Linked DNA regions of Homo sapiens: region 1 is linked to region 2. Evidence: fine-mapped expression QTL. A gene starts in region 2. The other region holds a variant in brackets. All regions are shown on one strand. Distances are between the middles of the regions. Region 1 overlaps ANKRD55 (ankyrin repeat domain 55). Region 2 holds the start of IL6ST (interleukin 6 cytokine family signal transducer).

Region 1 (2,909 bases), 160 kb before region 2:
GTCCAAACTTCTGGGGTTAAGCACTCTAGAAATAACAGCATGTTCCAGGCATGCTCTATATGTTGTATGCATATTAACTCATTTAATCCTCACACTGAGCTGTGTGATAGGTAGTTTTTATCACTCCTATCTCACAGATGAGGAAGTTTAGGCAGGAAGAAGGTAAGTAACTTGCCTGAGGTCACAGAGCTCATCAGTGGCAGGGCTGGGATGTAAACCCAAGCCATCTGGCTGCAGAGCCCGGGCCCCTCTCCACTATGCTCGGCTGCCCCCCTCTCCCAGATGGAGCGTTGACTTCAGTCAACTGAGCAGGAGATCCAAGTCAGGTAAGAGCCTGAATCTGAGAATCATTGATAGCTGTTTTACACTGATTACTGTCATCTTGTGCTTAGGCATGTGTGTATTTTACAAAGAATGAGCAAACTTGCAAATACTGACAACCTCCTGGTATAATCTATGCATTAAAAAGGCATGACATATGCAGCTAGGAGTGAAGCAGGTCGAAAGCACTCTGTAAGTTTCTATAAAGTGAATCTTGTGCTTAGGCATGTGTGTATAAAGAATAAAGAATAAGTGGCCGGGCACGGTGGCTCACACTTGTAATCCCAGCACTTTGGGAGGCTTAGGCGGGCGGACCACGAGGTCAGGAGATCCAGACCATCCTGGCTAACACGGTGAAACCCCGTCTCTACTAAAAAATAGAAAAAATTAGCAGGGCGTGGTGCGGGGCGCCTGTAGTCCCAGCTACTCGGGAGGCTGAGGCAGGAGGATGGTGCTAATCCGGGAGGCGGAGCTTGCAGTGAGCCAAGTTCGTGCCACTGCACTCGAGCCTGGGCAACAGAGCGAGACTCCATCTCAAAGAAAAAAATCATAATAATAATTGCTACATGATTTTGGATCTTAAAGGGCATGGCTAGGAGACAGAGGCCTGGTGAACACAATGAGCCTAAAGTTTCTCCATCCCCTTGTGCCCCTCGGGAGTGCTGAGATGAAGAGAGGGTGGGAGAGGCAGACAGTAGCCCTCCACACAGGTGTCTTCTAACCTATCACACTCTTGCTTCTTTTCTGTGGATCTTTTTCCCAGAGAAACGGAAAGGGCCCTCATCTTCATTTGGAGTCTTTCAACTGACGGTTTTTCTAAGGTCATGTTTTTATACCGATTCCAAGAGCACCGTGACTGCCTGTTATTTTGAGCCATTTCTCCTATTTTTTCCTTACAGGCTCCTCACGGTCCTGTTGCAACAGTCGAACATCAGCGAGATTAATCACCAGGACAATGAGGTGAGCCACACTCT[C/G]AAGCAACAAGTGGTCATTTTGCATGTGAGGGTGAAAGGAAGGGCGTTTCTGAACCATTGTGCTTCCTCTTAAAAGCTACGGGGAGACATGAGGCATGGTTCTGTGTTCCTACCCTGAAAGGGAGACCTGTTTTCACTATTAATCCTCAGCAGAAACTTATCCCCACCATGGGTGTGTGTAGCTTCTGATAGGGAAGGACTTTATTGCATTAAGTACTTCAGCATTTATCATACGACTGAAATTTTGTAACTTCCCTCTGGACATTGAGAAATAAATATTGCTCTCTCCTGTCTTCTCAAGTCCCAGAAACTTAGTAGCAAGCGGTGGCTCAAGACGTGCTCTCTTTTTTTTTTTTTAAGATGGAGTTTCGCTCTTGTTGCCCAGGCTGGAGTGCAGTGGCACCGTCTTGGCTCACCGCAACCCCCGCCTCCCAGATTCAAGTGATTCTCCTGCCTCAACCTCCCCAGTAGCTGGGATTACAAGCAGGCGCCACCACACCCGGCTAATTTTGTACTTTTAGTAGAGATGGGGTTTCTCCGTGTTGGTCAAGCTGGTCTCAAACTCGCGACCTCAGGTGATCTGCCTGCCTCGGCCTCCCAAAGTGCTGGGATTACAGGCATGAGCCACTGCACTCAGCCTAAGACATGCTCTCTCGTGTAAGATGGCAGAGAGGTGGGTGTAGTGGCGCGTGCCAGTGGTCACAGCTACTCAGGAGGCTGAGGTGGGAGGATCACTTGAGCCCAGAAGTTTGAGAGTCCAGCCTGGCAACAAAGTGAGACCCCCCTCTCTGAAGAAAAAAAAGAAAGAAAAAGGAAAACAATGACAAGACTGGACACTGGCTCATGCCTGTAATCCCAGTGCTCTGGGAGGCCAAGGTGGGAGGCTCACTTGAACCCAGGAGTTTGAGACCAGCCTGGGCAGCAGAGCGAGACTCCATTTCTACAAAAAGTTTAAAAAGTAGCTGGGTGTGGTGGCACATGCCTATAGTCCCAGCTACTCTGGAGGCTGAGGCAGAAGGATCACTTGAGCCCAGAAGTTCAAGGTTACAGTGAGATATGATCACATCACTGCACCCTAGCCTGGGTGACAGAGTGACATCCTGTCCCCCTCCCCTCCAAAAAGAAAAGAAAAAGATGACAGAGAGATAATATTAATAATTCCGGGTTACCTGCTCCAGACATCACATTATTAATCCCAGTGATCGTAACTGCTGTTTAATTCATGTTGCAAGTAGAAGGCTTCCAAAAAGGTCGTTCAACACTCTTCAACAAAGTTCTTGAGGGAAGGTGGCTCAGACACTAAGCAGAGCTGTCCAAGAGTAGCTTAGAGTCTTGTTAGATCTGCTTAACTCTTTTAAAATGCAGTACTAATTTTCCTTAGCCAGGCTGATTTCCTTAACAAGGTTCTTAAAATCAATTTAAATACCTGGTTTTCAATGGAATTTTAAAGTAAATATGTGCTTGGTTTGGTTGCATTTCACTAAGAAAGTCTGATAACATTAAAAATGTACATACACAAAGATGCCGATTACATTATTTTCAAGGAAGCTAGGTGACCATAGGCAAGGGGGCGGGGGTAAGCCTCCTAATCACTTTCTTCTGGGGCAGATGCCC
Region 2 (2,909 bases):
TGCGGTGAGCATGATCCAGCCACTGCACTCCAGCCTGGGTGACAGAGTGAGACTGTGAACAACAACAAAAAAATCAAGTTTCCTGGATCTATACAAAATTTTCAATTTAACAAATTTTTATAAAAATTTGTTTTAAAATAAACACCCCTCTAAATGGCAAAGCTAGAACAGAATCTGGTCACAATCTATAGGTTAGATATAGGATGACAGGGAGGAGCAAGAGCTGAACACATCAGCTGCAGCACCATCTACTTTGCCTGCGACTCCGTTAGCAGGCCCACTTTGCCCTTTTATAAATTATCTGATCAACAACTAAGAGATTAAAATTCGATCTATGTTTTACTCTATCTGAATCCTCAATATAATGAAGAACTTTATAATTGTTAATTTATGGATATAATTTAAGTTCATTAAACCATTATTTCCTTCCTATATCCTCTCATTCTTCCACAAAAACCTCTACCTTTGGGTGTTTACTTTTACAGACACCCACGCACACACCCCACACGCACGCACGCACATGCCTTATCTTTTAACTCAAGATTCTCATCTTCCTTTGGGGAGAAACAAACATCATGAGCCTTGAGGTCCATTTTCTGAGGGAAAGGGGGGGGCGGAGGCGGGATGAATAGGTTTTTACCCGGTATTTTTTATCATAAACGGGGAGGTACAAACCGCAAAGAAACACTAGTCGCTTGGTGGGCCACCACCTCTGGGGCTCACTGATCAATCGCACCCAAACTCATTTACTAATTTAAAAAAGTACTGTGGCAAGGCTCGTTTACGTAAGTCTTGGAGAGAAGCCGCCGCCACAATCTGCCGCAGTCTCGTGCGGAGTCACGGCCACCGAGCTCTTCACTTTCCCCAAGAGGCTCCCACGCCTTCCCCATCCCCAAGGGAGCTAGGCGGTCCCTCGCGGCTCTGAGTCCCTCGGGGAAGGCCGCGAAGAGAGGCCGCAGGCGCCCTGGCGAGAAGGGAGGGCGGGGGCAGCGGGCGGCGGGCAGCACCCGGGCTCCAGTTCATGACCCCGTTATTCCACAGAAAAATGGAACATTCCGCTCTTTCCGCCCACAGAGGGGAGGTGGGGGGAACCCTTCGATCTAGTCTGGGAGAGGCGACGCGGACGCAGCCACCGGAATCCGGGACGCGAAGAGCCGCGTTACGGGAATCGCTACCCCTCGGAGTCCCGCCCCCTCGTCGACAGGCGGCCACTGGACCAATGCCTGGGCGCAAAGGGTCTCTCAGGGGCCAATCAGCGCCTAGGTCCCGGTAGGGGGCGGGGCGCAGCGTTGGCCGGCCGGGGGCGCAGCTGGGCGGGATTGGGGAGCGCCCCGCCCCGCCGCGGGACTGGGGTGGCGCGCTACCTCTGCGGAGAAGGATCTGACAGTGTTCCGGAGCCGGGGCGAGCAGCCAAAAGGCCCGCGGAGTCGCGCTGGGCCGCCCCGGCGCAGCTGAACCGGGGGCCGCGCCTGCCAGGCCGACGGGTCTGGCCCAGCCTGGCGCCAAGGGGTTCGTGCGCTGTGGAGACGCGGAGGGTCGAGGCGGCGCGGCCTGAGGTGAGGAGGGGCCGGGTGCTGGGTCGCGTAGCTGGAGTTAGAGTGTCGGTGGTTTCGGACGGGCTATCTGGCACTCGAGGAGACCTCCCTTCCCCCTGAGAGCAGCGCCCGGAACTTGTCAGCCCAGCCTGGAAATCCCCACATTCCTTCCCCTTCCTGCTCCCGGACCTCCGAATTCTACTTCCACAACTTTGTCACCTCGATTATCGCAGCCCTGAGTACAAACTTCACCCAGGCGCACGCACGCACCCCTCTTAACGCCCGCCCCGCAGAACGCCCTTCAAGAACAAACCCCCCTTTTTGTTACCAGATCCCACGTTTTTCCCAATCCCCTTTTCATCTCCCCTGAAATTCTATTCGCTCCGCACTTGTCTTCATTCTCGAGGTGGATTTCCCTTCCCCAAAGCCGTTTTTTCATCTTGAAATCGTAACGTTTCAGCTTTGTTGAAAGTTCACAATGCTTATAAACACTATTAACGTTTCTTTCCTTCTTTTGATCTTTTCTATTAATAATTATCATTCCTAACGAATTCCACATCTCACTGTATCCCAAGGAGAACAAATCAGTTTTTAAAATTTTACCTCCTCCGACCTAAACTTTTGAAGATAGTGCAGGAAGCAAGGGTCTGTTCTTCAGTGGATGAACAGCATTTTATTTCATAATCCGAAACTGAAAAAAAAAAAAAATCACAGGTTAAAAATAAGACGTCACCTTTTTTTTTTTTTTTTTTTTTTGCCTTCAGAAGGAAACGCATTTTGGCTTAGTTTGTGAAGTATTTCAACAATTATACTGCCTTAAAATAACTAGTTATTAGAATGCCAGGGTGAATTTTCTGAAAGATTGTGGTATTTGCTTTTGACAGTGCTGTAAACAAACCCTTTAAACTGTGTATGACTGCCAGCTTCAAGTTGGAACAACTCTTAATTTGAAATTACGGACTCAGATCATCAGTTTAGCTGTGTGCCATTATGTTAATTTCTTAAATTCATGTTAATTCCTATTTGGAAGTATTTTTGAACTATGAACTGAAATATTACATTTATAGAACCAACTTGCTATTAAATTGTGCTTTCCAACTATTTCTCTTTAGGGATAATCTTGAACGTTTGTTTTTAATCTTGAGTGAAAGAAAAAAATTACAGGAAGGAGAAAGTGTCAAAAAGGACAGACTGTAGTGGGATTTTTTTCTTATTTTAAGTATGTATTGACAATACCAGTTTAATTTTCTCACAGGCAATTTAGATTATTATAAATACTGCTGCCACCTAATTTAATATAATATAGTCTTACGTAACTAAAAATGTTGTTCTCACTCTTATTTGTGAATTGCAGTATTTTCAATTTATTTAAAT

What was found. PIP is the estimated chance that this variant, and not a neighbour inherited with it, causes the effect.
Region 1: its variant is fine-mapped to the expression of IL6ST in whole blood (INTERVAL, PIP above 0.99).

What each region holds. Positions count from the first base shown.
Region 1 is chr5:56,158,205-56,161,113 of GRCh38, reverse strand. It overlaps ANKRD55 (ankyrin repeat domain 55), which reads left to right. Exons shown (of 12, transcript NM_024669.3): 6 at 1,221-1,281. Among named protein-coding and RNA genes, the nearest start is that of ANKRD55, 74 kb to the left of the region's middle. RefSeq lists an enhancer at 255-1,050. The variant C/G (reference allele first, on the strand shown) is at 1,296.
Region 2 is chr5:55,993,431-55,996,339 of GRCh38, reverse strand. It overlaps IL6ST (interleukin 6 cytokine family signal transducer), which reads left to right and starts at 1,377. Exons shown (of 17, transcript NM_002184.4): 1 at 1,377-1,556. It overlaps IL6ST-DT (IL6ST divergent transcript), which reads right to left and starts at 1,173. Exons shown (of 2, transcript NR_102755.1): 1 at 786-1,173. RefSeq lists an enhancer at 824-1,335, cis regulatory regions at 924-1,597, 291-2,609 and a silencer at 1,167-1,646.